7 linked regions of the Homo sapiens genome follow. The protein of the gene in region 1 interacts with the protein of each later gene in a biochemical or structural test. Each region holds a gene or a part of one and is shown in the gene's direction. Other genes may lie near its edges. The genes, in order: PRKN, PARK7, PICK1, CASK, RNF41, UBE2V1 and SEPTIN5.

What was found.
Region 2: the proteins of PRKN (region 1) and PARK7 form a complex in vitro, tested with the Homo sapiens proteins (2 studies listed by BioGRID, with this or other methods).
Region 3: the proteins of PRKN (region 1) and PICK1 form a complex in vitro, tested with the Homo sapiens proteins (3 studies listed by BioGRID and IntAct, with this or other methods).
Region 4: the proteins of PRKN (region 1) and CASK form a complex in vitro, tested with the Homo sapiens proteins (2 studies listed by BioGRID and IntAct, with this or other methods).
Region 5: the proteins of PRKN (region 1) and RNF41 form a complex in vitro, tested with the Homo sapiens proteins (2 studies listed by BioGRID, with this or other methods).
Region 6: the proteins of PRKN (region 1) and UBE2V1 form a complex in vitro, tested with the Homo sapiens proteins (4 studies listed by BioGRID).
Region 7: of the proteins of PRKN (region 1) and SEPTIN5, one has a biochemical effect on the other in vitro, tested with the Homo sapiens proteins (2 studies listed by BioGRID).

What each region holds. Positions count from the first base shown.
Region 1 is NC_000006.12:162,717,481-162,721,736, reverse strand, and holds part of PRKN (E3 ubiquitin-protein ligase parkin), read left to right. Parts: intron 1-4,256. UniProt on the Homo sapiens protein: Functions within a multiprotein E3 ubiquitin ligase complex, catalyzing the covalent attachment of ubiquitin moieties onto substrate proteins. Substrates include SYT11 and VDAC1.
Region 2 is NC_000001.11:7,967,789-7,972,044, forward strand, and holds part of PARK7 (Parkinson disease protein 7), read left to right. Parts: intron 1-1,556; coding exon 1,557-1,616; intron 1,617-3,105; coding exon 3,106-3,175; intron 3,176-4,256. UniProt on the Homo sapiens protein: Multifunctional protein with controversial molecular function which plays an important role in cell protection against oxidative stress and cell death acting as oxidative stress sensor and redox-sensitive chaperone and protease.
Region 3 is NC_000022.11:38,060,404-38,064,659, forward strand, and holds part of PICK1 (PRKCA-binding protein), read left to right. Parts: intron 1-4,256. UniProt on the Homo sapiens protein: Probable adapter protein that bind to and organize the subcellular localization of a variety of membrane proteins containing some PDZ recognition sequence.
Region 4 is NC_000023.11:41,517,510-41,521,765, reverse strand, and holds part of CASK (peripheral plasma membrane protein CASK), read left to right. Parts: intron 1-1,169; coding exon 1,170-1,346; 3' UTR 1,347-4,256. UniProt on the Homo sapiens protein: Multidomain scaffolding Mg(2+)-independent protein kinase that catalyzes the phosphotransfer from ATP to proteins such as NRXN1, and plays a role in synaptic transmembrane protein anchoring and ion channel trafficking.
Region 5 is NC_000012.12:56,218,622-56,223,437, reverse strand, and holds the start of RNF41 (E3 ubiquitin-protein ligase NRDP1), read left to right. Parts: upstream 1-1,515; 5' UTR 1,516-1,678; intron 1,679-1,736; exon of another isoform or gene 1,737-1,847; intron 1,848-4,816. UniProt on the Homo sapiens protein: Acts as E3 ubiquitin-protein ligase and regulates the degradation of target proteins. Polyubiquitinates MYD88. Negatively regulates MYD88-dependent production of pro-inflammatory cytokines.
Region 6 is NC_000020.11:50,106,510-50,110,765, reverse strand, and holds part of UBE2V1 (ubiquitin-conjugating enzyme E2 variant 1), read left to right. Parts: intron 1-1,654; exon of another isoform or gene 1,655-1,793; intron 1,794-4,256. UniProt on the Homo sapiens protein: Has no ubiquitin ligase activity on its own. The UBE2V1-UBE2N heterodimer catalyzes the synthesis of non-canonical poly-ubiquitin chains that are linked through Lys-63.
Region 7 is NC_000022.11:19,716,989-19,720,902, forward strand, and holds part of SEPTIN5 (septin-5), read left to right. Parts: intron 1-231; exon of another isoform or gene 232-1,749; coding exon of another isoform or gene 1,750-1,830; intron 1,831-2,613; coding exon 2,614-2,710; intron 2,711-2,817; coding exon 2,818-2,904; intron 2,905-3,126; coding exon 3,127-3,250; intron 3,251-3,331; coding exon 3,332-3,466; intron 3,467-3,560; coding exon 3,561-3,678; intron 3,679-3,779; coding exon 3,780-3,881; intron 3,882-3,914. UniProt on the Homo sapiens protein: Filament-forming cytoskeletal GTPase. May play a role in cytokinesis. May play a role in platelet secretion.

The sequences.
Region 1 (4,256 bases):
TGTTCATAGTCTAGAAGGGGTACAGAAAAGTAAAGATTTACAAACCTGAAAGGTGGGTATCATAATATAGGTTTATACAAGGAAGTACTGGAAAACTCAGCCTATAGAGCTTGGAAGATCCAGCTGTTTCCCAGTGGAGCCATTCCAGTTTTCCTGCAGGACAAGTAGGAGTTAACTAGGTGAAGGCGGCCTTCTAGACAGGCATGGAGGGGAGAGAAGAGAATAGAATGAAAGGTATCTGGTGAGGCTGCAGGCACACCAGATAAGCTTTGTCAAGGAGGTAGGTTTAAAGTTGGCGATAGGGAGGAGTCACTGAACCATTATCTACAAAAGAGCATTATGAACAGGTTGTATTTTAGAAAGATGTCTGTGGCAGTACTAGAAAGTTATGAAATAGAACGTTGTAGAAAATAGTTACACTAGTGCCAGCAAGTCCAGATAAAGTGTTAATAGAGGACTTCTCATGACCTTCATTGTACTTCTTAGATAAAACAGAATACTTGAAATCACTAGTTACGGAGAACAAGCGTTTATAAACTCACTCCATAAAACAAAGGAAAGAAGTCCAGATAATGTTTAATAGAGGACAGTCTTCGACTGAGAATGGCAGGGTAATTGTGCAGTAGGAGATGGCTTTTCTCAGGGTGTTGACATTGATTTGATATGTCATTACATCATCTCTGATTAAAGGCCATATTTCTTTTTAAAAAGTTCTTATTTTTGTAGAATAGATTAATGTCTCTTATTGACAGGTGTTTTATTTCATGTTACTAAAGCTTTATTTGTATTCCAAAAATAGTTTGTATCTCCTTCTTTGATATGTGGAACATGATGCTTAGGGTTCTATTTATAGTTTCTTCTCTGTGTGGAGAGAACAATGTCATCAGAGCTGTGGATATCGTGTCACCCAGAATAGTGCAGAATAGTTTCTTCCTCTTAGATATCTGCATGACTCATATACCTAGGCACATATTAAGACCATCTATGGGCCGGGCGCGGTGGCTCACGCCTGTAATCCCAGCACCTTGGGAGGCCGAGGCGGGTGGATCATGAGGTCAGGAGATCGAGACCATCCTGGCTAACAAGGTGAAACCCCGTCTCTACTAAAAATACAAAAAATTAGCCGGGCGCGGTGGCGGGCGCCTGTAGTCCCAGCTACTCGGGAGGCTGAGGCAGGAGAATGGCGTGAACCCGGGAAGCGGAGCTTGCAGTGAGCCGAGATTGCGCCACTGCAGTCCGCAGTCCGGCCTGGGCGACAGAGCGAGACTCCGTCTCAAAAAAAAAAAAAAAAAAAAAAAGACCATCTATGGACAGATGTGTGTATTTTTAAGAGTATTGATGGCTTCTTGATGATTCTCTCCAATTTACTTTTACTGTAAGACCTGAACAGAGGCCCCCATAAAGTTTCACATGAGAGCCCTTAACTTTGGAGGAGAGAATGTTCAATAGTTAGCAGCCTCACCCATTTTGCACATCTCTACTCCTACCCTCATCAAATGAGGGGGAAAATTGGTGATTAGGGAGTTAATATTGGTGTCCTGATTGAGACTTTTTATTATTTATTTACATAATTGTTGAATACGCCAGTTACTCCTATTGTGAGATATTTTTGGAGTTTCAGTGCATAAATAAGATCTTGTGATGAAGCCCTCTGTAACTGCGTAGTCATTTTTAAAGCTTATTGTACCCGCAGAGTAGATCCATTTTCCAGATCATGAAATGATAGGAAGTAGACACCTGAAACTTGCTCGTATTAATAAAATGGAGAAATAGGAAGGAACATTTGTAATATCTGTGTTTCTGAGGTCAACCTTTAGTTTTTTTTTTTTTTTTTTTTTTTTTGACATCTACCTGCACTCCCTCTTTTCTGTCCCCTCATTTTTTTCTTACCCACATTCCTTGATTTTCTCAGAAGCTGGAATTTAATATTTCATTCTTCAGCTCAAAGGAGCAGCTGTTGTCTGAACAACAGGTGAATTTCTTCCTTACTTGTTGCCACAGGGCTTGACTGTGGGTTGTAATGTTTCTGAGGGTTATCACAGGAGTGGCCTGACCGGAACAGACCAGGCTTCACCACAGCTCCTACTGGAGACATTCCCTAGATTGGGAATTGTCTGCAATGGAAATCTTTGTAGTCTCTGGCTCTGCATTTTCCTTCCAGGCAAATCCAGTCCTGATTACAATTTTTTTTTTCCATTGAAACAAAATTGAGGAATGATGAACTCTGGGCAGCTAGAGGATGGGGGCAAGTTAGGTTTGCTCCTTGGAGAATTAGACAGATTTAAGAATAATATTCCCTGTGCCCTGGGTCTTCTCTCCACCCTTGAAATTCGACCTCCTTTCTCCTGAAAGTCCTTTATAGCTCTCTGGTGAGTTCCCAGAGTGTGAGAGGTACAGATTTAAGCACAAGTGAGGTCATGTTCTCTGAGGTGCTGCTTCTCTGGGCTCCTGACCACAGACAAATGTAGACTGCATGATCCAGTTGATATTCACCAAATTTGTATAATTACATGTGACAATATATAAAGACGTTTTTACATGAATATGTCTGAATTCATAGGATCAGATGGGAAGTATATGTGTTTTATTGGGCAGTCAATTTAGACATAATCATATGATACAGAGAGTGATATTTCGTAGAGATCTGTTGTGGGCTTTCCACTCTTGTTCATTTAGGAATCTGTGAGATGCTCAACCTATGATTGGAATTGGAATTTCTTCCTTTTGTCCCTCTCTAGAGTTTTCTCCATTATTCATTGTCCCTTTCTCGTGTGTGTGTGTGTGTATGTGTGTGTGGCATCTGCCGTGTCTCACTACATGCAGAGCTTCTGACATAGGTATTGACTTTTATATCATCTTGATTTCAAAGAAGTCACCAAATAATCTTATTCTCAGTGTCTTGAGTTTTATACCAAGTCTCTGTGCTTGTTTTTTATGTTCTGGCAATTTCTGGGCATTGTTGCCCATTTTAGAACTCTATTTTGTTTTGTGGGGGACAGTTCTGGAATAAATTTTTTTTTTTTTGAGACGGAGTCTTGCTGTGTTGCCCAGGCTGGAGTGCAGTGGCGTGATCGCGGCTCACTGTAAGCTCCGCCTCCCAGGTTCACGCCATTCTCCTGCCTCAGCCTCCCGAGTAGCTGGGACTACAGGCGCCTGCCACCATGCCCAGCTAATTTTTTTTGTATTTTTAGTATAGACGGGGTATCACCGTGTTAGTCAGGATGGTCTCGATCTCCTGACCTCGTGATCCACCTGTCTCGGCCTCCCAAAGTGCTGAGATTACAGGCATGAGCCACCGCGCCTGGCCTCTGGAATAATTTTTAATGGAGATTCAACATCTAAGAAACTTTCATATTGGATCAAGACATAGTTGTCACAATTCTTAGTGTGTAAATTCATTAAAAGTCCCTTCTGGCTTTTGCAGCCAATTTAATCATCTTATGCTTAATAGAATGCAAGTTATACAGGTAAAGTCAGTCAGAGAGGGGATGGGGATGCTATTTGAGATGAAGTTCCTAGAAGTAATAAGATTTTTTTTGTCTTAAAACAGTGATGATAGGATGATTAAGTGATCTAAGATGGACAAATATGTGTGAGTTCTTAATAATTGGGAAAGATCTTTTTTAAAAAGTGTTAATGTGACCATTTAGTTACCATAACTGGAAACTAGATAGCATTAGGGGCCATTTGTATATGTAAAAATATCAGGAAGTATACCGGCAAATTATATCTTTGGGTTGTGGGATGTTTTCTTTTATTATGATTGTGTTTTTCAGATCTTCAGCGTTAAGCGTATAATGTTTTGGAAATACTGAAAAGCAATGTGTTATAAACACAATCTTCAGGACAAATGCATTGTGGTAATACATTTAAAACGGATTCTACTTTTGTGTCAAATTATGTCAGATAAATTTTCAATGGTAGCATACTATGCTCATGTTCTGGTCATAAAAGTAGTGTTTTCAGGAAAACAAACATTAGAACCATAATTTCACTTTCTTTAATATTATACACTATCGGGGCATGGCCAGATTACTGTATTAGTTTTTGTGTAGTTCCTGTTGTTGCTGTAACGAATTACCACAAGTTTAGTGACTTTTAAACACAAATTTATTTTCTTACAGTTCTGGAGGCCCAAAGTCCAAAATGACTTTTTTTTTTTTTTTTTTTTGAGACAAGATCTCCCTCTGTCACTCAGACTGGAGTGCAGTGGCACAAACACAGCTCACTGCAACCTTGAATTCCTGGGCTCAACT
Region 2 (4,256 bases), on another chromosome or scaffold:
GCATGCCTGTAGTCCTAGCTCCTGCAGAGGCTGAAGTGGGAGAGTTGCTTGAGCCCAGGAGTTCAAGGCTGTAGTGAGCCACGATTGCATCACTGCACTCTAGCCTGGGTGACAGAGGTGAGGGCTTCTCTCTAAAAAAATTTTATAGGTTGCACTAAATACATAATACATTTTTATTTTGTAATTTGTTTAATGACTAGATTTTTTTTAACCACTTTTTAAAGTACTAAAGTATTGTTGGCCGGCCACAGTGGTTCACGCCTGTAATCCCAGCACTTTGGGAGGCCGAGATGGGTGTATCACGAGGTCAGGAGTTTGAGACCAGCCTGGTCAAGAGGGTGAAACCCCATCTTTACTAAAAATACACAGATTAGCCGGGCACAGTGGTGGGTACCTGTAATCCCAGTTGCTTGGGAGGCTGAGGCAGGAGAATCGCTTGAATCCGGGAGACGGAAGTTGCAGTGAGCTGAGATCACTGCACTCTAACCTGGGTGACAGAGCAAGACTCTGTCTCAAAAAAAAAAAAAAAAGAAAAGAAAAATAAATAAATAAATAAAAAGTCCTAAAGTATTGTTAAAACAATTTCCGTTTTGTAATTTCAGGAAGTTTGAAATTAATTTGATTTCTAGGATTTTTTGGGGGGGATACTAAAATTCTCCCCCCGTTACATTTTTCATAAAGTTAAGAAAAATTTTTTGTGCCTTTTACTTAAAATTTGTTTCTCTATTAATTTTATTTGTTTTTTTAGACAGAGTCTTGCTCTGTTGCCCAGGCTAGAGTGCGGTGGTGCAGCCTCAGCTCACTGCAGCCTCTGCCTCCTAGGTTCAAGCGATTCTCCTGCCTCAACCCCCCAAGTAGATGGGACCACAGGTGTGCACCACCACACCCAGCTAATTTTCATATTTTTAGTAGAAATGGGGGTTTTGCCATGTTGGCCAGGCTGGTCTCGAACTCCTGAGCTCAGGTAATCTTCCTGCCTTGGCCTCCCAAAGTGCTGGGATTACAGACATGAGCCAGTGTGCCCAGCCTGTTTTTCTATTAATTTTTTAAGTTGTTCATGTACATTCTTGTTGAACAATAATTCAAACAATATAGACACATATAAAGTCAAAATGTTAAATGTCCTGTTCTCATTCTCCCTCTGCCCCATCCCACACTACTCCCATTAGCAACTAGAGTGTCTTCCTTTGTCTGTGACTACCTGTATACAGAATATGTGGGGTGGGGTGCTTGTGGTGATTGTACACATACACGCATACATCTACACACAAATACATATATCCTTGTCTTTTACAGGAAGGAGATTATACTACCCCTGCTACTCTGCAGCGTGGACATCCTTGCATGTCACTACATACAGGTTTTCTGCATTTTTTGCTAGTTAAAACACCATTCCGTCATGTGGATACACCTTAATTTATTTAACTGTTCTATTGGCAGATAGGCTATCTCCTGTACTTCCCACATTTAAAATAGGAAAGTATTATTGGACTGTCAATTTAATGCACAGTTGAAATGAAATGTTTTTGTTTTCTTTATGTTTTAAACTGTTACAGGGACCATATGATGTGGTGGTTCTACCAGGAGGTAATCTGGGCGCACAGAATTTATCTGAGGTAAAAAATTCTACTCAATTATACCTCAATAAAGCTGGGGGGGGGGAAAAACTAAAGAATTTCAGCATCTGCTTATGTTCTGTTAATTTTGTTATTATTCAAATATTTCGGGAGGAGGCTGTGAAAAAAAAATAGAAACAACTAAAATTAACAAAATGGTGTTATAGCATTAACTCAAACTTTTTTTTTTTTTTGAGACAGAGTCTTGCTCTGTGGCCCAGGCTGGAGTGCAGTGGCACAATCTCGGCTCACTGCAATCTCCGCCTCCTGGGTTCAAGCAGTTCTCCTGCCTCAGCCTCTGAGTAGCTGGGATTGCAGGCATGCACCCCCATGCCCTGCTAATTTTTATATTTTTATTAGAGACGGGGTTTCACCATGTTGGCCAGTCTGGTCTCAAACTCCTGACCTCGTGATCCGCCCACCTCGGCCTCCCAAAGTGCTGGAATTATAGGCGTGAGCCACCACTCCCGACCTCAAGAAAACATTTTTAATATTTTCTATGGAGGTCAGGTGCAGTGGCTCAACGTCTATAATCCCAGTGGTTTGGGAGGCTGAGACAGGAGGATTGCTTGAGGCCAGGAGTTTGAGACCAGCCTAAGTAACACATCGAGACGCCATCTCTACAAAAAATTTTCTTTTAATTAGCTGGGCACGGTGGTGCACACTTGTAGTCCCAGCTACTCGGGAGGCTATGGTGGGAGGATGACTTGAGGCCAGGGATTTGAGGCTGCAGTGAGCTGTGAATGCACCACTGCATTCTAGCCTGGGCAACAAAGCAAGAACCTGTCTTATCAGAAAAAAAAAATGTTGCCATGGAAGTAAGCTGAATTGGTGGGACCGTTATGAACAGATGTCGATGAATACAGTCCAAAGTAAGATGATTTGGTTTTTTTCCACCAGCAGAAGAATGATCAGATTTTGTGTTTTGAGAAGGGCAAATTGTCTACTCAAAGTCTTAACTGGGGGAAGCTGTGGGGCTAGGGCTGCCAGCAGGAATGGCAAATGCCATCAGCAGAGACCATTGTTCCTCATTTTAAGTCGTATGTGAGGAGTCAGAGGCCAGGGTGAGGGGCACACCTGCAGGCAGAGTTGGGGCTGCCAGAAGTAAGAAGTGGGTTGTGTCAGACACAAGGGATCTTTTCCTGCTAGATTCTGTTCCTCTCTCTGCCATCTGAAAACACCCAAAACACCACATTCCCTCCCATTTCTTTCTCCCTGGAGTACAAAATGGCAAGGGTCAAATTGCTTCTTCTGATCTTTAAATGTGGAAGAGTGCGTTTCTCTTATGAGAAATGCCTTGCTTGGGTTTAAGAATATAATATAGACACATTTTGATCATTTTTATACCAATGATTTAGAAATATTGTTGGAAAATAGGTCAGAGAGCTTGTGGTTTAAACTAAAATTAAATTCTTCCAAAGTTTCCTAGTGAGTGATTGGTTAGTGGCTTAATGATAACTTTATGTATTTTTGGTTTTCTTTTCACTAGTCTGCTGCTGTGAAGGAGATACTGAAGGAGCAGGAAAACCGGAAGGGCCTGATAGCCGCCATCTGTGCAGGTGACGTGCAGGGGCAGCCTGTGTTGCAGCGTCATTGGTGGGTGGGGTAGCCTTTCATTCGATGGTTTGATTCCAAATAGCTCTTCCCCTTCATAAAGCATGCAGGGCATCTGTGTTGGTGTATTTAGTTTGGGTGGCATGAAGTTGGTGTCATTTCAGAGATGAGGACAATTGTTCTGTTTTCTGCCTCTCCATGCCTTTGGTCTACATGCTGTGAAACTTAGTGTTTTCCGTGTTTGGTTGACCTCGGAGGAAAATAAGGCCCTCTGGAATTCAGTAAACAGCTTGTTACAGCAAGTCTCTGTGCCAGAAAGTCTTTGTGCCAGCACACAATCAGCAAAATCCATCAAACATCAACACAGCAGCTCTGTCCTGTGCTTGCCCTGCAAATTCAGAAGCCCCCATGGTGCTTTCCGCTGGCTTCTCGGGCGTTTCTGATTGTCTCAGTACCGAGTGATCTTGGGCACCGCATTATCTGCCACATAATTTAGAACAAGGACATTTGGTGCTTCGCAGATGTCCTCTTCTCTTTGTACCTTAGTAATATTTTATTTTCTCATAACCATTTTAAGATCCATTCTTGTTGCTTTCCTATCAGATGATGTTCTGCCATTTTGGTTTTTTCCCATGCTGTAATTTTTGCCAGCACCTTCCTTGTTGTATAGGTCTTCATTAAATATTTGTCAGGGCCGGGCGCAGTGGCTCACGCCTGTAATCCCAGCACTTTGGGAGGCTGAGGCGGGCAGATCACCTGAGGTCAGGAGTTCAAGACCAGCCTGGCCACCATGGTGAAACCCCATCTCTACTAAAAATACAGAAATTAGCCAGGCGTGGTGGCGGGCGCCTGTAATCCCAGCTACTCGGGAGGCTGAGGCAGGAGAATCGCTTGAACCCGGGAGGCGGAGGTTGCAGTGAGCCGAGATTGTGCCGTTGCACTCCAGCCTGGGGGACACGAGCGAGACTTCGTCTCAAAAAAAAAATAAAATAAAATAAAATAAATATTTGTCAGAAGAGTGAATGAATAAACGAATGAATGAGTGGATGGTTTGGTAAACATCAACATCAAAACATGTTGCTGTTG
Region 3 (4,256 bases), on another chromosome or scaffold:
CACTGTGTGGCTCATCCAAGTCAGTGACCTTGCTGTAGCCTTGGGAATACCTGTTCTAACCCTCTCACTGGTGGCAGATGGGAAACTGGCCTCTGTGAGGATCTTGCTCAGGAGTCGCTTGTAGGCCTCGAAGACAGATTCCCAGGATCGACCTGGTCTTGCTTCTGCTCACAGTGCTGCCTCCTTCATGAGCCATTCGGCCTCCTGTGACCCAGGAGGCATTAGCAAGACCTCCCCCAGGCCTGGCCTCCTGGCCGTGTGTCTGCTCAGCCTCTCGCCACCTCCCTCTACCTACCTCAGGTGCAAGTTTGCTTAGAATGAACAGACATCATAAAATAGTATAATTGATTTTTTTTTTTTTTTGAGACAGAGTCTCACTGTGTTGCCCAGGCTGGAGTGCAGTGGCGTGATCTCAGCTCACTGCAACCTCTGCCTCCTGGATTCAAACGATTCTCATGCCTCAGCCTCCCGAGTAGCTGGTATTACAGGTGTGCGCCATCATGCCCAGCTAATTTTCGTATTTGTAGGAGAGAGAGGTTTTAGCTATGTTGGCCGGCCTGGTCTCGAACTCCTGGCCTCAAGCGATCCACCCACCTCAGCCTCCCAAAGTGCTAGGATTACAGGCATGAACCACCAGCCAATAAAATAATAGAACTGGCCGGGTGCGGTGGCTCACACCTGTAATCCCAGCACTTTGGGAGGCTGAGGTGGGCAGATCACCTGAGGTGAAAACTTCCAGACAAGCTTGGCCAACATGGTGAAACCCTGTCTCTACTAAAATACAAAAATTAGCCAGGCATGATGGCGGGTTCCTGTAATCCCAGCTACTTGGGAGGCTGAGACAGGAGAATCGCTTGAACCCGGGAGATGGTGGTTGCAGTAAGCCGAGATCGTGCCATTGCACTCCAGCCTGGGCAGTTGAGTGAGACTCCGTCTCAAAAATAATAATAATCATCATCATCATAGAATTGATTTTTTTAAATTCAATTTTGTTTTTATCAAAGTGCCATATGACTTGCCTCTACCAAGTCAAGAGCATTAAAAGCCCTGTATCAAATAATAGCAATCCACTGCCCTTCCCCTGGGCACCTCACCCGGCTTTCTCTGTCTCTTCATGCATGGGCTTCCATTTTTCTCAATAGTCTCACTCTGTCGCCCAGGCTGGAGTGCAGTGGTGCAAGCATGGGTCACTGCAGCCTTGATTTCCCCAGACTCAGATGATTCTCCCACTTGAGCCTCCAAGTAGCTGGGATTACAGGCACGTGCCACCAAACCTGGCTAATTTTTGTGTATTTTTTGTAGAGACGGTGTTTTGCCATGTTGCCCAGGCTTGTCTCAAACTCTTGGGTTCAAGTGATCCACCCGCCTCAGCCTCCCAAAGTGCTGGGATTACAGGCGTGAGCCACCGTGCTCAGCCTATCCTGTTGTTTCTTGATCTATCACCTGTAAATATCTATTGACTTTGCCTCGTCTGGTAGATGAGAATTTAGTTCTTCCCATGACCAGTCTGTTTCCTCTCATCCCACCTTTCCAACATAGTTATTTTTCTATTTTTGGCTAAATTAATATTAGTACAACGGAGATTTTGTTCGGGAAATCTTTTCCAGATGCCTCCTAGGCTCTGTTGTAGGCACTAGGGATAAAAGAATAAGAAAGCAAAGATCCTACTCTTGCGGAGCCCTCATTCTAGTCAAAACAACTCTATGTTTAACTTTCTGAGGAATCTATGTTTCTTTTCTTAATTCAGCCTGTTCTTGTGTTTTGAGAGGGTGGGGGTAATTTCCTGTTTTGTTTTTTTCATTTGCACTCTCCTTGTTTTCTCAGTATGTTTTCCACAATTTCCCATCTTTTTTTTTTTTTTTTTAAATTAAGTCTTGCTCTGTTGCCAGGCTGGAGTGCAATGGCGTGATCTTGGCTCACTGCAACCTCCAGCCCCCGGGTTCAAGTGATTCCCCTGCCTCAGCCTCCGAAGTAGCTGGGATTACAGGCACGTGCCACCACGCCTGGCTAATTCTTGTATTTTTAGTAGAGACGGGGTTTCACCATGTTGGTCAGGCTGGTCTCGAACTCCTGACTTCAAGTGATCCACCTGCCTCGACCTCCCAAAGTGCTGGGATTACAGGCGTGAGCCACCATGCCCGGCCCCATTTTCTTCAGTCTGTTTTCCGCCCTGTAGTCTCTCCCCCTTGTGCCCTCCCCCTGCCCCTGCCCCTTCTCTTTGGATTCCCCCATCTTGGGGGTCCCTTTCCTGGTTTACTCCCTGATCTCCCGTGGAGAATATCCTCCTGTAGCTTTCTGAGAAAGGGCACGTGGGATGTCAATTTTTTGAGACCTCGGGTCTGTCTTTTTTGGTCATTGTGGTTCCCATATTCCTTTCAGTTGACATTTTGGCTCATTCGATTCAAGAATGAACGTCAAGGTTGACAGTAATTCCTGTGTGGAAGTGTGATGGCCTTGTCACATTGTCCTTTGCTGTCACATGGCTATTGCCATTCTTATTGGTGATCCTTTATTTGTGATGTGTTTTATTTCTGATCTGTGAGAACTTTGAGGACTTTGTTTTTGTCCCTGGTGTTGGGAGGAGTCGTGATGGTAGCTGCAGGCACAGGCTTTTGTTTATTGTGCCAGATCCTCAGAGGGCGTCATCGGGAACACCATGTCCTTCTTGTCATGTATCTCGATGATGACATCCTGCTTTCTGTATTCTCTGTTCTGCTTTTTTCTATTTTTTTATTGTGGTAAAATTTACCATCTTAACTTTTTTTTTTTTTGAGACAGGATCTTGCTCTGTCGCCCAGGCTGGAGTGCAGGGGTGCGATCATGGCTCACTGCAGCCTCAACCTCCTGGGCTCAAGCGATCCTCCCACCTCAGACCCCCGAGTAGCTGGGACTACAGGCACGCGCCACCATGCCTGGCTCATTTTTGTATTTTTTTTGTAGAGACAGAGTTTTGCCATATTGCCCAGGCGATCTTCCCACCTCGGTTTCCCAAAATGCTGGGATTACAGGTGCGCACCACCGTGCCCAGCCCTTGGTCTATTTTTGAATTAGGTTGTTTGGTTTTTGTTGTTGAGTTTTAAGAATTCTCTACAAAGCACAATCGGCTAAGAGGAAAAAAAGAAAAAAGAGTTTTAGGAATTCTGCATATATTCTGGATATTAATCCCTTATCAAAAATGTGATTTGCAAATATTTTCTCCCATTCTGTGGGTTGCCTTTCTTTTCTTCTCTTCTCTGTTCTTTTTTTTTTTTTTTTTCGAGACAGTGTCTCACTCTGTTGCCCAAGCTGGAGTACAGTGACGGGATCTCAGCTCACTGCAGCCTCTGTTTCCCAGGCTCAAGCGATCCTCCCACCTCAGCCTCCCAAGTAGCTGGGACTACAGGCGTACACCACCATGCCCAGCTAATTTTCGTGTTTTTTGTAGAGACAAGGTTTTGCCACATTGCCCAGACTGGATGGTGTATTTTGATGCACCAGTTTTAAAATTTTTATGAAGTTCAATTTGTTTATTTTTTGTTACTTGGATCTTAGGTGTCACATCCAAGAAATTACTGTAAACTCCAATGTCGTGAAGGTTTTGGACTAGGCATTTTTCTGAGTTTTATAGTTTTAACTTTTACATTTAGGTCTTTGAACAATTTTGAGTTAATTATTATTATTATTATTATCTTCGAGACAGAGTCTCGTTCTGTTGCTCAGGCTGGAGTGCAGTGACATGATCTCGGCTTACTACAACCTCCACTTCCCAGGTTCAAGCGATTCTCCTGCCTCAGCCTTCTGAGTAGCTGGGACTGCAGGCGCCTGCCACCATGCCCAGCTAATTTTTGTATTTTTAGTAGAGATGGGGTTTCGCCATGTTGGCCAGGTTACTCTCGAATTCCTGACCTCAGGTGATCTGCCTGCCTTGGCCTCCCAGAGTGTTGGAATTACAGGTGTGAGCCACTGCGCCTGGCCTTGAGTTAATTTTTGTATGTGGTGTTAAGTAGTGTCAACTTCATTTTTCACATACCATTGTTGAAATGACTGTCCTTCCCCATTGAATGTTCTTGACACCCTTGTCAAAAATCATTTGATGCCGCCGGGCACGGTGGCTCACACCTGTAATCCCAGCACTTTGGGAGGCCAAAGCAGGTGGATCACCTGAGGTCGGGAGTTTGAGACCAGCCTGACCAACATGGAGAAACCCTGTCTCTACTAAAGATACGAAATTAGCCGGGCGTGGTAGCGCATGCCTGTAACCCCAGCTACTCGGGAGG
Region 4 (4,256 bases), on another chromosome or scaffold:
TATATTTAAGACTCAGCCCAAGAGCTCACCCACCTAGTGTTTGGCAGGTAGGGGGTGGTTAATTTGACTCACAAAGTTCCCTAGTGTCAAGGTTGAACTTGCCCTTTGGGAGTTCAGCATGACAAATATGACTTGCGAAGATATAGAGGCAGACTTCTTTCTGGTGGCTCTTAAGAGACCCCTGTCTTGAAAGAACTGCCACTCTGTAGCAGAAGCTATACTTGCATGACAAAGCTGGGACCCTAAACTCCCTCCTCCTGTTGGATCCCTCTTACAAGAGTTCTTAAAATCTGTGGCAAGCTGCAGCTTAGGGAACATCCTTTGTTGCAGCAAACCTCCCTAGAGTTCAGTACTCCCTAGAGTTCTCTTCCTTCTGTTTTTTTCATAAGAGATATGAGGACCTACGAACAGTGACATTTGTCTAGCCACTTCTAATGCAGACCAATTTGGGGGGATTCATCAGATGCCAGGTGCTGTTTATTGGGGAAACAGCCTTATTCCAGCCATTATTTGTAACACTCAAAGATCTTTTGCCTCTGGCATCAGCTGCTATTGAGTGAGGGCCATTATATGTAATTGAATTCCTAGAACGTGTGGCACCTTTAAGTAGAAGAGGAAAAAATACAACTTAATTTGTCATCCAAGGGCAGGGACTTGTTGGTGCAAACACAGCTGGGCCCTGAGGCCTGGCTCCAGTGAGTGTGGAGGACCAAGGGGACGGGGGCAAAGAGCTCCAGCCTTGCCACCGTAGCCCTCTCGCCAATTGGGAGAGTGGCTTGAGGCTAGGGCGGGGGGCTTCCTGCTGGCCTGTTTGGGCCACCATAGCCACTGTAACCCACACCTGGCATGGCCCTACCAAGCCTGACTCTGGGGACAGGCACAGCTAGGCCTGAGTGGGGGTGGCATGTTTCCTGAAGAGTATCTGTTTTCTCTGGTTCGTCTGCTTTGTCATGGACCCTCTGTTGCATGTTGAGCAATCACTGTCTCCTCTGTCATGGAGCGGACTTGGCCTCATGCTGGCATATGGCATATCAGGGTCTGGCCTTGACTGTTTCTGACACTGGGATGAACAAAAATGTGAAAAGAGAACGAATCCAACTGATTTCTCTCTTCTGTTTGCTTTTCCCTCCTCTCATGCCCACCCCTACCTCCATCTCATCACCATTTAGGATGAATCTCTTCAGCGTCTGCAGAAGGAGTCTGACATCTTACAGAGAACATATGCACACTACTTCGATCTCACAATTATCAACAATGAAATTGATGAGACAATCAGACATCTGGAGGAAGCTGTTGAGCTCGTGTGCACAGCCCCACAGTGGGTCCCTGTCTCCTGGGTCTATTAGGCCTCTCCCCAGATATCTGAGCATAACTGGGAGCACCTCATTTGTGGAAAAGCCTCTTTGTTATCGGCCTTGTGTCAGCAGGTCATGGTCCCTAGAGACTACCTAGTTGTAGTGTGACCTACATTTATAATTATTGTCATGTCCGAATAGATAGGAGGAGAAAAACAATTACACACTAATTTAAAGAGACAGTATCTTTTTTAATCAGTTCTCCTAAACTTTAATAAAATGTATCTTTAAATGTATGTATTATTCAATCCTTTGGAATGTTATATTTTTGGAAATCATAGCTTTTTATTTCCAAGGCCCCTAAAAACTGCACAAAATAGATGCTGCTTTCTATAATCTATTTTAATAATAATAAACAATGATTCTGTTACCTTGACTGGGGGTGGAACACTACATTCTTTTTAGAGTCTGATTTTATGGATTGGAATATTGGGATATCTTTCTTTCCTTTATTTATTTGAAATAATTAGTGTAGTGATTACAAAACAGTCATAAATTTTTAAAGGCCTTTTTTCTCTCTTTTTTTTTTTTTAGAATAGTATTTTTTTTTAAGTCCTTTATGTAACATCCAGATAATGTGATACTGTCTCTTTGAAGCACCCTGTAAACCTTTTAGAGATTTGAAGTTGGGTCTTGACTCTTAATGCATGTGGACAGTCGCGAGCGTTTATGCTGTCGGTGTGTCTGTGTTGGACAAAACAATCTGTAATCTACAGCAAAGTACATTCTACATTCCGTTCATGGGGCACACCCAGGGGAATAAGAATAAAATGCTATTATGACTAAGTTGTAAACCTATGCACATCCCTTGCATTTTGGGCAACTTTATAAAAAAAAAGAAACTGATTTTTATTAATAATAATCATGTAGTGAAATGTGTTTGTAATTTTGTCTCAATTTAATTTGTTGTAAGGTGGGGTGGGGGGAATTGCTGGTTTCACCATTTCAGATCTGTGTTGTCTAAGAGTATTAACGTTTTAATTAAGCAAAGAAATGATTTTTAATCTGTATGTAATTGTTTTAAAGCACCCATTTTAAGAGAAAATACTGTGCAATGAAGAAACCAGTTTAGGCATTTGCTATAAACTGAAATATTCCAAAAGAATCATCTATAACAGCCCTGTAAATTCCTTTAAAATGATAACTAACAGGACAGTTTGACCAATTTTTTTTAAATATACTTCCTTTTATGTGTTCAATAATTAAATGCCTTTGGGTCCTTCATTTCATTATAGATTTGTTCAGGCTTCCAAGCTGATAATCTTTACAATTGTATAATTTGTTAGATGCTCATTGAACCTTTGAAGGCCCAGGAGTGAGTATCAGTTGGCAGGGTGACAAAGTAGCCTGCCAGAGCACAGCTGGACCACGTCTGACTCGCACAGAGCCATGCGCCCAAGGGCCACGGGTGTACTGGAGGCCACCTGTGGTCTCTCCTTCCTCTTGCTGTATCCCTTGGCACAGGGGAATCATCTGTCCTTGTTGCTTTAGAGACATTAACCATCTCATAACTCTTCCATGAAGTCACATTCTTCCAATACAGGAGATTCGGGCTGGGGTTCTCAGACTCTTTGCCAGAGGTCAGTAGAATGTTTTTCATTAGCATGTGAGGGTGTGAAGTGCTTATATTAACCTGTGATCCTTGAAAACATACCATCATTTTTTGCTTCTTGTAGGTTAGATGGCCTTGTCACTTTGTGCCTTGGCAGGATGTGCAGGGTGTGTTCTGAGCTGAACAGCTCCTCTTAAAGGACCAAACAGAGAAGGCATTAGTATACTTCTTTTACATTGTCAACACCATACCCGCCTCCGCCCCCCACCGCCTATTATTAAATGGTGGCGATTTTTTTTTTTCTGATGTTGTTCTTTGCCAGTGACCAGATGAGTCTGCAACTTACTAACAAGGTATTGAGTGAACTACTTCTGTATGGGCCCCACAGTGGGGTGACCAAGCCACCAAACCAGAGATAAGCTCAACAGTGGTCTCACACTAGATAGAGAGAGAAACCTTCAAAGAGTTGGGTAGGGCTGTGTTAGAACTGATTCGAATCTGATAGATGCCAAGGCCAGACAGTCGTTCCTGGTATGGTACTGACCACAATTTCGGGCTCTTAGTGTGAAGGTGCGCACTCTACCTCTTTTCTGGTGAAGCACAAAGACAACTACAACTAACACATGGGAAACAGAAACTTCCCTCCCTCTAGTGGAAACCCCCACGCCCCCACTTGCCCTTTGAGCCCACATCTCCAGAGATGCTGATGATGCCTGTCTTAAGCCATCTGCCATATTTATAAAGGTGGATTAAGCAGAGGAGGAGAAAAGCAATGCCAACTTAAATGTCTGTGGCCCCACAATTCACAAGCACTGTAGCACTCATCCTCAGTGGCTTTATACGTCCTCTGAGAAGCACACAGGCAGGCATCATTCTTGCCATCATTCCGATGGTGAAATCCCTGCATGCAGAACTCATTGACTTCTCAAAGATGTTACCTGTTCCATTCCACTAATACATGTCTTCTCTAAAGCAGTGTCTTTATGACCTAGCTGCATATACTTACATTTCTGAATTCAGAGTAATTTCAGTACATTGCTGCTGCTGCTGCTGCTGCTGCTGCTGCTGCTGCTGCTGCTGCTGCTGCTACTGCTACATTACAATTGTCCACTAAGCAATCAGAGAAAATTGCTAAAAGCTTCTTTACTGCTTCCATTCCATCAGCAGAACCTTTTTTTTTCTTTCTTTCTTTTAAAGACCAGAATGAATGTTTAGAGTACTAAATCTTATTAGTGGTCAATTGAAGTATTGGAGAGCCACATTTTGAAGGTTCTCTCCCCCACCCAACTCCATTCCCCACAGCAAGAAAGGGAGTGTTTTTATATGTTGAATTCTTTGTTAAAAAGATG
Region 5 (4,816 bases), on another chromosome or scaffold:
GGTTCGCACTACCACCCTCGGCTAATTTCTGTATTTTTTTTGTAGAGACAGTTTCGCCATGTTTCCCAGGCTGGTCTCGGACTCATGACCTCAAGGGATCCGCCCACCTCGTCCTCCCAAAGTGCTAGGATTACAGGCGTGAGCCGCTGCACCTGGCCATACTACTCTTCCCCGCCCCGCCCCACCGCTCCACCCCGGCAAAGGAGTCTTGCTCTGTCGCCCAGGTTGGAGTGCAGTGGCGCGATCTCGGCTCACTGCAATGCAACCTCTGCCTCCCGGGTTCAAGCGATTCTCCTGTCTCAGCCTCCCGAGTAGCTGGGATTACAGGCGCCCGCCACCACGCCCGGCTACTTTTTTTGTATTTTTAGTAGAGACGGGGTTTCACCACGTTGGCCAGCCTGGGCTCAAACTCCTGACCTCGTGATCCACCAGCCTCGGTCTCCCAAAGTGTTGGGATTAAAGGCATGAACCACCGCGCCCGGCCATACTACTCTTATCTTACTTATCTCAGAGTCCCGCTAGAAGACAGCAGAAAGGAGGCCTGAAACTTTAGTTCCTTTTGGGACCTGTCAAATTGTCCACAAAAGGTAGCTAGCTCTGTATTGTTGTGTATAAACAAATTACATAAAGATATGTGTGTATGTGTGTATTAATGTGCATTAGCATTTGCTTAGCCAATGTCCACAATAAATACCATACTATTTAATACCAGATTAGTCTAGGAAGTCATGTGATTGTAATGCCTTGGTTTGCTTAATTAATCCCTTATCTGCTCACGGAGCTCTTTAGGCTCCACATTGACTTCCCTTGGATCCCACGTTCTCTACCGCCCACATCCCCAACACCACGGTGTTGTAAGCTAAGGAAATCAAACCCCAACTCAGGAAGAGGGAAATTTTTTCTCCCTTCCTTCCTCTTAGGTGTTTCAGGGAACTCCACAAGTGTTCGGGGAGCCATCGTGGATACGGCAGGAGAGCGCCTGGGAGAGAGGCAGACAACCCGTTGAGCACCCCAGATCTAAGCTTTGCGGTCAGACTCCCTCACTCCCCACCCCGCGGCCGCCTTGTTAACTGCAATATCCATTCCCATGACAGGAGTCAAGGGGTTACGAAGCTCTGGGATGCTGACCAGGGCTCTGGAAAAGGGAGAGGGGCCGGACCCGCAGCAGGTCACGCTGCAGGCCTGCCTCTCCGCAATGATCTCGCAACAATCTGCGTCAGCTCTAAGACACAAGTCACCTGCACCCCTCCAAAGCGAAGCGTGGCCGGCCAGGCCCACACGTTTTTGCCGGGAAGAACATAGAGTTCTCCCTCCTAAATGGCTACATAGTCCTGGCTGGGACCATATAGACTCTAGACTAGACTTCCTGTCTAGAGTGGAGGCCTGGCCAGCCTTCGTCCCTCCTCGTAGGCAGCTCCTGGCTGCTGGTGTAGGGGCTGAGTTAAACAAAGAGGCGGGGTTTGGTGACGAGCTTCCGCCGGGTTGCGTAGCAGCGGTGGGCGGGGCAAAGGATCCGTCTGAGGCGGCGACGAGTGGTAGGAGTCTTCTTTCCCCTCCTTCCCCTTTCCCTTCCCTTCCCGGGAGAGGCTGGGACCCGGCACCAGGGCAGTACTGTGGCCGCTGCGGCCTCAGCTCCGACTGGGTCAGGTTGCGGAGACTCCAGGCCGCTTCCAGGGCGGTGCGTACTGCGCCTGCGCGATCTTCCACCTAAAAGAGGGTGTGGGAGGGGAGGAGGTGATGTCCCAGGGGTATTGGGGCGGGGGGTTGAAATAACTGGGGTTCAGGAGGAGGGATGGTGGTAGAGATAAAAATGTGAGAAGGGAGCAGCACTGGCGAGGAGTCGGGAGGTGAGAAGGGGGCTCTGGAGAACGGGTTGTTGGGGAAGGTCCATTGGAATAGGGGAGCTTTGAGAAGTGCGGGAGGGGGCCGGGGCTAGCTGGAGGACCGGCACCTGCAGAACTGGGGGAACAGCGTGGTGTTTAAATGGGCAATGATTGACGGGCCAGAAGGGGAGGAAGGGAGCATTCCGGGGGCCAGCCTGGGCAGGGGCGGTGGAACCTAAACCCCCGCCCTCGAAGCGCCATAGCTTGGCTCCTCTCCCATGCCTTGTCGTTGGCAGCCTTGTCCTCTCATTCCTTCCCCGCTCCTCACCCCCTCCCAGCCCTCCATGAAGGAATCTCACATTCTTCACATCCCTGCGCTTGGTTTGCAGCCTGGCTCTCTGGCAGGGTTCACACACCACACACTGGAAGGCCTTCCCTAACTCAGGACTTTGGGAAATTGGGTAGTGGGGAGGAGGGGGCTAGAGGAAGAGCAGAAAGCCAGGAGGGGTGAAGGCGTTTTGCTTGAGGGATTGACAGACTGCTTCCCCGTTCAGAAACTTCATTTCATTTAATAGCAAGTGGGGCTGTTATTGAGGCCACTGTTCTTGGGGACTGGCCCGTGATAGTGTTATCCCTTTCTATACAGGGGTTTTAGAGTCTGACAATAGGGCAAGAGACTGATAGTGTTGTTGGCTGATAGTTTTGCCCCAAATAAGAATGTAGTGGACTAGTGGTAGGGAATGTGAGTGATGCAATGTTAAGCCGACCGACCTGTGGCTAGCCCTGCCTTCTAGTAAAAAGAAGGAACAAGCTTTTGTCAAGCATTTCCTCTCCGACTCTCAGTACTCTAAATTTATTTTGCATTCTTGTTTTTTTTTTTTTTTGAAACGGAGTCTCACTCTGTCACCCACGCTGGAGTGCAGTGGCACAATCTCGGCTCAGTGCCACCTCTTTCTGGGTTCAAGCGATTCTCCTGCCTCAGCCTCTTGAATAGCTGGGATTACAGGTACCTGCCACCATGCCTGGCTAATTTTTTGTATTTTTAGTTGAGATGGGGTTTCACCATGTTGGCCAGGCTGGTCTCAAACCTCTGACTGTAGCCGGGCGCGGTGGCTCACGCCTGTAATCCTAGCACTTTGGGAGGACGAGGCGGGCGGATTGCCTGAGCTCAAAAGTTCGAGACCAGCCTGGGCAACACAGTGAAACCCCGTCTCTACTAAAAATATAAAAAATTAGCCGGGGCATGGCTGCATGCACCTGTAGTCCCAGCTACTTGGGAAGCTGAGGCAGGAGAATTGCTTGAACCCAGGAGGCAGAGGTTGCAGTGAGCTGAGATTCCACCACTGAACTCCAACCTGGGCAACAGAGTGAGACTCTGTCTCCCCACACCCCCCGCCAAAAAAAACAAAACAAAACCCTGACCTCAGGTGATTGGTCCATCTCGGCTTCCCAAAGTGCTAGGATTACAGGCATGAGCCACTGCACCCAGCCTTATTTTGTATTCTGTTGCTACAAATAATCTTACTTGAGGATAACAGTATTCAGTATCCTTTCATATTTATTTATTTATTTATTTATTTATTTATTTATTTATTTTTGAGACAGGGTCTCACTCTGTCACCCAGGCCGGAGTGCGGTGCTGCGATCTCTGCTCACTGCAACCTCTGCCTCCTCGGCTCAGTTGACCTTCCCCCTTCAGCCTCCTCAGTAGCCGGGACTACAGGCACTCACGCCATCATGCCCGGCTAATTTTTGTATTTTTTGTAGAGACAAGGTTTCACTATGTTGCCCAGGCTGGTCTCAAACTCTTGGACTCAGGTGATCCACTCACTTCGGCCTCCCAAAGTGCTGGGATTACGGGTGTGAGCCACTGCGTCCAGCCTCCTTTCGTATTTATTATTTCATTTGATTTGCAGACAGTATGTATAAGGGGTGCGCGCGTGTATATACACATATATACACACACACACATATATACACCTTATATTACGCCGGGCGCAGTGGCTCACGCCTGTAATCCCAGCACTTTGGGAGGCCAAAGGTGGTGGATCATATGAGGCCAGTTTGAGACCAGCCTGGCCAACATGTTGAAACCCTGTCTCTACTAAAATATAAAAATTGGCTGGGCGCGGTGGCTCACGCCTGTAATCCCAGCACTTTGGGAGGCCGAGGCAGGCAGATCACGAGGTCAGGAGATCAAGATCATCCTGGCTAACGTGGTGAAACCCTGTCTCTACTAAAAATAAAAAAAAAAAATTAGCTGGGCGTCCTGGCGGGCGCCTGTAGTCCCAGCTACTTGGGAGGCTGGGGCAGGAGAATGGTGTGAACCTGGGAGGCGGAACTTGTAGTGAGCCGAGATCGCATCACTGCACTCCAGCCTGGGTGACAGAGCCAGACTCCGTCTCAAAAAAAAAATAAATAAATAAATAAATAAAATAAAAATTAGCCTGGCATGGTGACACATGCCTGTGATCCCAGCTACTCAGGAGGCTGAGGCAGGAGAATTGTTTGAACCTGGGAAGTGGAGGTTGGAGTGAGCTGAGGAGATTGCATCACTGCACTCCATCCTGAGCGACAGAGGAAGACTCCATCTCAAAAAAAAAAAGAAAAATAGGCCAAGCATGGTGGCTCACGCCTATAATCCCAGCACTTTGGGAGGCCGAGGCGGGCGGATCACAAGGTCAGGAGATTGAGACCATCCTGGCCAACATGGTGAAACCCCGTCTCTACTAAAAATACAAAAATTAGCTCAGCATGGTGGCACATGCCTGTAGTCCCAGCTACTTGGGAGGATGAGGCAGGAGAATCGCTTGAACCCGGGAGGCAGAGGTTGCAGTGAGCCAAGATCGTGCCACTGTACTCCAGCCTGGCGACAGAGCAACACTTTGTCTCAAAAAAAAAATAACATATATATATATAATAAATATGTATATATTATATATACCTTATATTAATATATAAGGCAGGTATCATTTTCCCTACTTGACAGTTGA
Region 6 (4,256 bases), on another chromosome or scaffold:
GAGACATGGCTTTGGATTTGAGATGGTATGAGGGGAAGCCATCAAACAAGTGTCTGGTATGAAGTAGGCATTCAGTAAATATTTGTTGAATGAATGAATAAGAGTCTTAAAAAGAGGAGTATGATAAGATCTGACCTTCGTCCCTAGGCAGTGAAAAGAGTGCAGGGTGCTAAGAGTAAAGCAGACCTTACTTGGGGTAAACTAAAATGAGTGTACAGGCCTCTCTGCTTTCTAACCCTGAGAAGTCTTCCAGGTGTGGTCAGGGCCCAGAGGCCTTCCTTAGTCAGGTTTAGAGTGAGGCTCTTGATTAATCTGTGCCTCCGGTTGCCAGGAAACAGCTGTGAAGCCTTTGAGTTCCTGTAAGGGCTGAACTTAGTTTTTTATGGTCACTGCTTTCAGCATTTGGCTACACCACCTTCCCACTTCCTTTGGTTCTGCAATGTGTGATATCTACATATGTCTTAGAGGGTGGAACTGTGAAAAGCCCACCACAGATCCTCAGAATCCCCATGTTATGACGGGTGACTTCCTCCTGCCTTGGCCAGGATTGCAGCACATCAAATAGTGGCCCTTGGTTGCCAGGCCCTTCCTCTCACTCAGCAGCCCACGAGCTTCCCTGACATTTAATCAGAAAATGAGTGCCAGAGGGGTAAGCCCTGGTGGGGCATGATTTTAAATTTGCATACATCGGAGTGGCCTCATATGCACATTCAGCTTATAAAAACTTAACCATGTGGGCAGCAGAGATTAGTCTTCCCTTCCATTCAAGAGTCTTCCCCAGAGAGAGCTGGAAATGGATGAAAACTCACAGTCCCTTAGTTCTTCTCAGTTCCTGTATGTCTCACTGTGTGAGCATCTTATGCCAATTGTAATTAAGTGCCTTTTGTACAACATGGGCCCTACATTCAAAGAACAGCTTCATATTGTGCTCAGCCAAAGAAATAGCAGCCTGCTCCAGTGATGGAGGGGAAACTGGCTTTGTTGGGCTAGTGCAAGCTTTTTTTTTTTTTTTTTTTTTGAGACGGAGTTTCGCCCTGTCACCTGGCTGGAGTGCAGTGGCGTGATCTTGGCTCACTGTAACCTCTGCTTCCCAGGTTCAAGCGATTCTCCTGCCTCAGCCTCCTGAGTAGCTGGGATCACAGGCACGCGCCACCACGCCTGGCTAATTTTTGTATTTTTAGTAGAGACAGGGTTTCACCATGTTGGTCAGTCTGGTCTCAAACTCCTGACCTCATGATCCGCCCGTCTCAGCCTCCCAAAGTCCTGGGATTACAGGCGTAAGTCACCGTGCCGGGCTGCAAGCTATTATTTTCTTAAGGGATTACCAAGGTTAATTTTGATGATCATGATTTTCCCCCTTCATGTTAACTGAAAACCACTCTATTTCCCCCACCACATTCTCTTTTCTCTTCATATCTCTATCCCTCCCACCTCCCCACAAATTGTAGCTCTGCAGTAATTTGGTAAAAGTAGAATACAAAATATGAAGTCAGGAATCCTCTGCTTAATTTTGAAGGGGCACAGTGAAGTTCAGAGCAGCACATTTGGCAAAGTAAATGTTTGAATACTATTACTGTTGTATTGTGGATAGTGCTTTAGAGTGTCCCATAGACTTCGACTTACCTGTGATGTTGTCTCATCTAACTCTCCACAGCCTGGTCACCAGCCAGGGGCAGTATCCACCCACATTACTGAGGGAGGAGCCAAAAGCCAAGGGAGACTGGTGATGCTCGGACTAGAGCCCAGGCATTTTTAACTCCTGTTCCCTCACCAGCCTGCAGGAAATGGAAAAGGCATGGATTTAGGGATATGTTCTTCCTAAGTCTTGGAGTGTTTAATCTTGGAGAGAGAAAGGGCTTTAGTAAGAAGTGTCTACTGCTACCCGTTTCAGGAACCCTTTTTATAGCATCTCTGGCCACTGTTTGTCCTCTTCTGGGTTATGTGCTGTCCAAGGAGAGTGAGGTCCTTTTTTCAGGAAGCTCTTGCTTATATTTTATACTGAATGACTCACACCTCTTGGGCTTGGAGCCCCATCATGGCAGGTACAAAGTAGTACCTCATCCTTATTTACATGCAAGCCATCAGACTTCTTTTTAAGTTGCACTCTTGGGTTTACTAAGTGCTAGACACTGTATTAACTACATTATCTCACTTGTCACAACAGCCCATTGAGGCAGGTATCGATTGTGAAGGTGAGGAAACAGGCCAGGAGAGGAGTGACTAGCCTGAGGTGCAGAGCCTGGGTGCTCTGGGATGGTGTTGCTTCAGGACACGTGCTCTTGGCCGGATGATCGTTCTTCCAGCCCCCATTTCTTATTCTCTGAGGTAGGCCTCGCAAGCATCTTCAGCCATTGGCATGTCTGTTATTTCTGCCTTGGCTGATTAGCTTATTCATGGGTAGATGGCAGTGACCTCTCAAGTAGTAGTCTTTCCTCATCTTCACATCCACCCTGTCACAAGTCCAGTAGGTGTAACCCCAAACTAAATGCCAAATCCTCCTTTCTGTCTCCACTCTTGTCATCCTAATCTAACCAGAACCGTCTTTCTCTTGCCTGGAAGATGGAAAAAGCCTCTTGCTTTCAGTCTTGCCCTTTCCATTTTCTATACAGGAGACAGAATGATCTTTCACAGACGTAAAATAGAAACTGCCACTCCCCTTCAGCAAGCCCTTCCCACTGCTCTTATTACAGAATAACCCATCCCTTTTCCATGGCCCACAAGGCCCTGCCGCCTTGACTTCATGTGGTGTCACACACCTCTGATCTTGCTCTGTCCCCAGATCTTCATGGGCCTGACTGCTGTTCTTCAGGTCGCAGCTACCCAGAAAGGCCGTCCCTGAGCACTCCATTCAATAGTTTTTTAGTCATTGTCACAGCTTCTTGTTTTGTTCTGTTTCTCTAAAGCACTTAACCTTACCTGAAGTGTTGTTTCGTTGCATATTTTCTATGCCTTTTCACTAGGGCAAGATTCTATCTCAACTTCTGTTGTGTCCCTAGCACCAGCACAGTTCTGGACAAAATAGTAGGTACTCAGTAAATATTTGTGAATGTTGCAGTGAGTTAATTCAGAATCTCTTTGATGTAGCCAAATGGATACATTTGACAATTTGTGGAGAAACAATGTATCCGATAGGGCAGAAGCAAAAGTGGCTATTCAGCCTTTCAAAAAACTGAAACTCTTATCCTTATTTGGTGGTATTTATAGAGGTACTTGATCGTAGAATTAACCATCCTCCCCTTCTCCAGTTGTCCTGACTCATTTCCCACATCTTGTTTCCCCCTTTGTCAAAGAAAATCTGATGCTTGGTCTTGGTCACTGACCCTAGCAGCAGAACACAGGGTCTTGCATTCTGTCACTAGCTGTTGTCACGTGGCTGGACTGTAAAGAATGACAGCTTGCTACTAATTCTTTCCCTAGAATTCCCCTAGAGCAATGGATCTCAAACTAGTATACCTCAGAGTCCTGGAGGGCTTGTCAGATTCTTAGGCCCAACCTTGGAGTTTCAGATTCAGGAATTCTGGGCTGAAGACCTGAGAATGTACATTTCTAGCGAGTTTGCGATGAGGTCTGGGGACTAACTTGGAGAACCATTGCTCTAGAGAAGGAGAAGAACAGATCTCCTGGGCAGGCTAACTAGACAGCCAGACTACACTTGGGCGGTTGCTCAGAAATAAAAGTTACTTGCTTATGGCTCTATGTCCAGTTTTCAGGGACGTTGAATCCCAGTGCATCACCTTCCATACCTCCTCATTTTCTGAAGTGGGAGCAGCATCAGATTCCTAGCTCAGTTCACTGTCTTCCCTGAATGGGCAACCAAACCATTTTTAACTAGCAGCTTTCTTTTCAGGAGAAACCTCTGAGGTTCTACCTTTTTTTTGTTTTTTTTTTTTTGTTGTTGTTGTTGTTGTTGTTGTTGTTGTTTTTGGTTTTGAAACAGAGTTTCACTCTTGTTGCCCAGGCTGGAGTGCAATGGTGCTATCTTGGCTCACCGCAACCTCTGCCTCCCAGGTTCAGGTTCAAGTGATTCTCCTGCCTCAGCCCCCTGAGTAGCTCGATTACAGGCATGCGCCACCACGCCCAGCTAATTTTGTATTTTTAGTGGAGACGGGGTTTCTCCATCTTGGTCAGGCTGTTCTCGAACTCCCGACCTCAGGTGATCCACCCATCTCTGCCTCCCAAAGTGTTGGGATTACAGGTGTGAGCCACCACGCCCAGCCAGCTCTACCATTTTAATTCAAGACCTAGGCCAGGGTTTT
Region 7 (3,914 bases), on another chromosome or scaffold:
GGGATGCACTGGTAGAGCTGGGGGGCCTGGAGCTGCCCCCTTTCCCTGGGATGAAAGGCTCTCCTGTTCCCAGCTGTGGGCCTGCCCCTCCTCCCCAGGTGCCAGTGGTCCAGGCCCCACAACAGGACCAGGGCCTGGACAGGAAGTGGAGGAGGTCTCTCAGCCAGGAGAGCCTAAGGGAGGGCTGGTGGCGGGTGGGGTGGGGTGGGGTTGGGGCCTCCAGCTTCTAATGTTCTAATGTGCAGGGGCTTGGCCTGACCAGTCCTACCCTGGAACCTTTCCAGGCCCCATGTCCTGCTCCGCTGGGCTTGCCTGTTGGGATTCTACTGGGGTCATGGAGGTGGGTGGCCCACAGAGCGGAGCTCGGGAGACCCCCGCAGTCCCTGGAGTAGCCACATGGGAGGGAGGCCCGGCTGGCAGGAGCTCCCAGTCCCTCCAATCCTGTGGGTCAGAGCTGGTGAGGATGCTCAGAGGGCAAGGGAATGTCCACAGAAGCACGTGGGAGATGGGTCCCATCCCACCCCCACCCCTGTCTCTGAGGGCAGGGCCACCTGAGGGCTGCAGGGCAGCGCATGGGTGGCCGGCGTTTATTCAGCAGGCTGGCGGGGGCTTCCAAGTTTTGCAGGGACCTCCAGTACTCCGGCAGCCTGCACCCTTCCTTTCCCTTCCCTTCCCTTCTGTCCACCCTAAGCCTCCTAGGGGACAGGCAGGCTGGACTTCAGAAAAGGTGGGCTCTGCCCTCCTCCGGTCCCCCGAATGTCTTGGGAAAGAGTCCACCAAACACACATGCACACACCCGCGCACACGCACATACCCAATGCATGCACACACGTACACACACACGCATACACGCATGTATACACGCGCACACACGCAGGCATTACACACACACACATTACACACACACACCCGCACGGACGCGCACACACAAACGCGCGCACGCACGCACGCACGCACGGGGGAGGTCAGCCCCAAGCAGGGCTGGGGAGGGGTGCAGGGCGCGGCGTGTCTGTGGGCACTTGGGGCGTCGAGACGCCGCCGGGAGGTTTTCGGGCAAGTCTGCGAGAAGACGGCGGGCCCTGAACTGGGCGGGTACCCGCGCTGTTGCGCGTGGGTCCCGGGAGCGGCCTCCGGCGCCCTCTGGCGGGCGGAAGCCGCGCAGCACCTCTTGGGGGCGGGACGCGCGGTGGCTACCGACTCCCGGCCCGCCCCGGCCCGCGTGCAGGACCCGGTCGTCCCCTCCTGCTGTCCTGGAGCCCGGACTGAGGCCCCGGGGGCGCGGCAGGGCTCCCGGTCCACGCGAGCCATGGCCCGACCGCGCCTCGGCTCAGCCCTGCCCTCCGCAGCCGCTTTCGGGTGGCTCCGCCCGCGGCCCAATTTCCAGGCGACCGTTTCCCGGCGACGGCGGGCGGGGCCGTCTCTGCCGCCCCCCGCCGCGCGCTCCGCGGGCGCCTGCGACGCCCCGCCTCTGGCTCGGGTGCGGGAGCGGGGCCTGCCCGGACTGCGACGCCGCCACAGCTTGGGGCCAGTTCGCCCAGTCAGGGGGATGGCTCGGTCGGCCTCGGGGGTCGACGATCCCCCGGGTAGGCGACGTGCCCTGTCCAGGCCTCACTTCCCGCGTCCGCAAAACGGGGTGGACAACGCAGCCTAAGGCAGAGCCGCGCCAAGGTCCCTCGCTGTCGCCGGGCTCTGGCGGCCTGACCGGGCCTGGGGTCCGAGCGTGCCCCCGGGCCTGGGGGGGTCGCCGCGATGGACTCGCTGGCAGCGCCCCAGGACCGCCTGGTGGAGCAGCTGCTGTCGCCGCGGACCCAGGCCCAGAGGCGGCTCAAGGTGCGTGTGTGGAGAGGGCGGAACGTGGGTCTGTGACCCCGCGGGCTCCGGGACTCGGCATGGGGTCCCCGTCCCCGCGCGCCACGGCCCGCCAGCGCCTAGGCTCAGCCCTTCCCTCCGCAGCGGCCTCGCAGGTCCGCGGCCCCACGGTGGGGCGACGTGCCCTGTCCAGGCCTCACCTCACGCGACTCCAAAACGCGGCGGAGAATGCGGCCGTGGGACCCCTCCAGGGGCCCCAAGGGTCTGCGGGGGCTGGGCGCCTGGGCGCGCGGGCGGGGGAGGCTCGGCGCCGCGGTCTATAAATAGGCGCTGCTCCGCCACCGCCGCTGCCGCCGCCCCCGCGGCTGGATCCGGGCCAGGTGGGGCCTCCCGCCCCCTGGCACTCTCCGGAGGGGTGAGTGTCGAGGCCCCCAGCTTCTCCGGCTTATGGAGGGCCTTGAGTGTGTCCCAGGGGTCCCAATCCTGCTGCCCTCTGCCCGAGGAGGGAGGACATCGCCTGTGCCTGCTGCGGCCTGACATCTCCCCACGGAATAAATACAGTGTCGGTCCCTGCAGAGCCCTCCCTGGGATTGGGGCCAGGGGTGCCTTCTCCTGCCACCACCTCGCCTGCCTTCTTATCTCCAGGCTTTTGCCCACGGGCCCTCCCCTTATTTTTGCCAACGAAATGCCCCACCCTGGGAACCGTACCCTCTGCTGTCTCCTCATACCGCATTTGGTAAGAGACAGGGTATTGGGCTTCTGGAGAAACCTTTGTGTCCCTACCCTGTTCCATCCTGTCCCCAGGACATTGACAAGCAGTACGTGGGCTTCGCCACACTGCCCAACCAGGTGCACCGCAAGTCGGTGAAGAAAGGCTTTGACTTCACACTCATGGTGGCTGGTGAGTGGGCCAGGCTCCTCGGGGGAGTGGCTGGGGTCACTGGCCAGCCAAGCTCTGTCGTTGGAGCCCCAGACCTAACGCAGCTCCTTCTCTGTACCTGTGTGCAGGTGAGTCAGGCCTGGGGAAGTCCACACTGGTCCACAGCCTCTTCCTGACAGACTTGTACAAGGACCGGAAGCTGCTCAGTGCTGAGGGTGAGTGGCCCCCAGGAGGCCCTGGCACTGATCCCCAGTCCCCTTCCATGGGACCTCTCCAAGGACTCCCTTTCAGGTCCAGCTCCCACTGTTCTGTTCTCGCGGTGTGGGTCCCCTGGGGGTAGGGCCAAGGCACCAAGATGGATGAGGACGAGGGTCCTGGCTGCCAAGGGTGAGGGGCTGAGGGTTGGAGAGGCCCTTCCAGTGGCCCCTTCCCCGTAGAGCGCATCAGCCAGACGGTAGAGATTCTAAAACACACGGTGGACATTGAGGAGAAGGGAGTCAAGCTGAAGCTCACCATCGTGGACACGCCGGGATTCGGGGACGCTGTCAACAACACCGAGTGGTGAGTGAGGCCTGCTGAGAAAGGCCTTGCCTAGGCGGCCACAGCACTCGAGGCCTGGCCTCACCTCCCTCCTGCCCACAGCTGGAAGCCCATCACCGACTATGTGGACCAGCAGTTTGAGCAGTACTTCCGTGATGAGAGCGGCCTCAACCGAAAGAACATCCAAGACAACCGAGTGCACTGCTGCCTATACTTCATCTCCCCCTTCGGGCATGGGTGTGTGGCTGTCCTGGGGCCAGGCTCGGGAGTGCAGCCCCTACAATATGGCCCCCTGGCTGTGCCTATGCCCACCCTTGGCTGCTCTCGGCAGGCTGCGGCCAGTGGATGTGGGTTTCATGAAGGCATTGCATGAGAAGGTCAACATCGTGCCTCTCATCGCCAAAGCTGACTGTCTTGTCCCCAGTGAGATCCGGAAGCTGAAGGAGCGGGTGAGCCTGCCGTCGCACAGGGGCCTGGCCAGGGCCCTGGGGCTGAGAGTACCAGGGGGACTTGTCTGGCCTCAAATCTGATGGTCCTTGCCCCACCACAGATCCGGGAGGAGATTGACAAGTTTGGGATCCATGTATACCAGTTCCCTGAGTGTGACTCGGACGAGGATGAGGACTTCAAGCAGCAGGACCGGGAACTGAAGGTGAACATGCAGACTGGTGGGGCAGGGGGGATG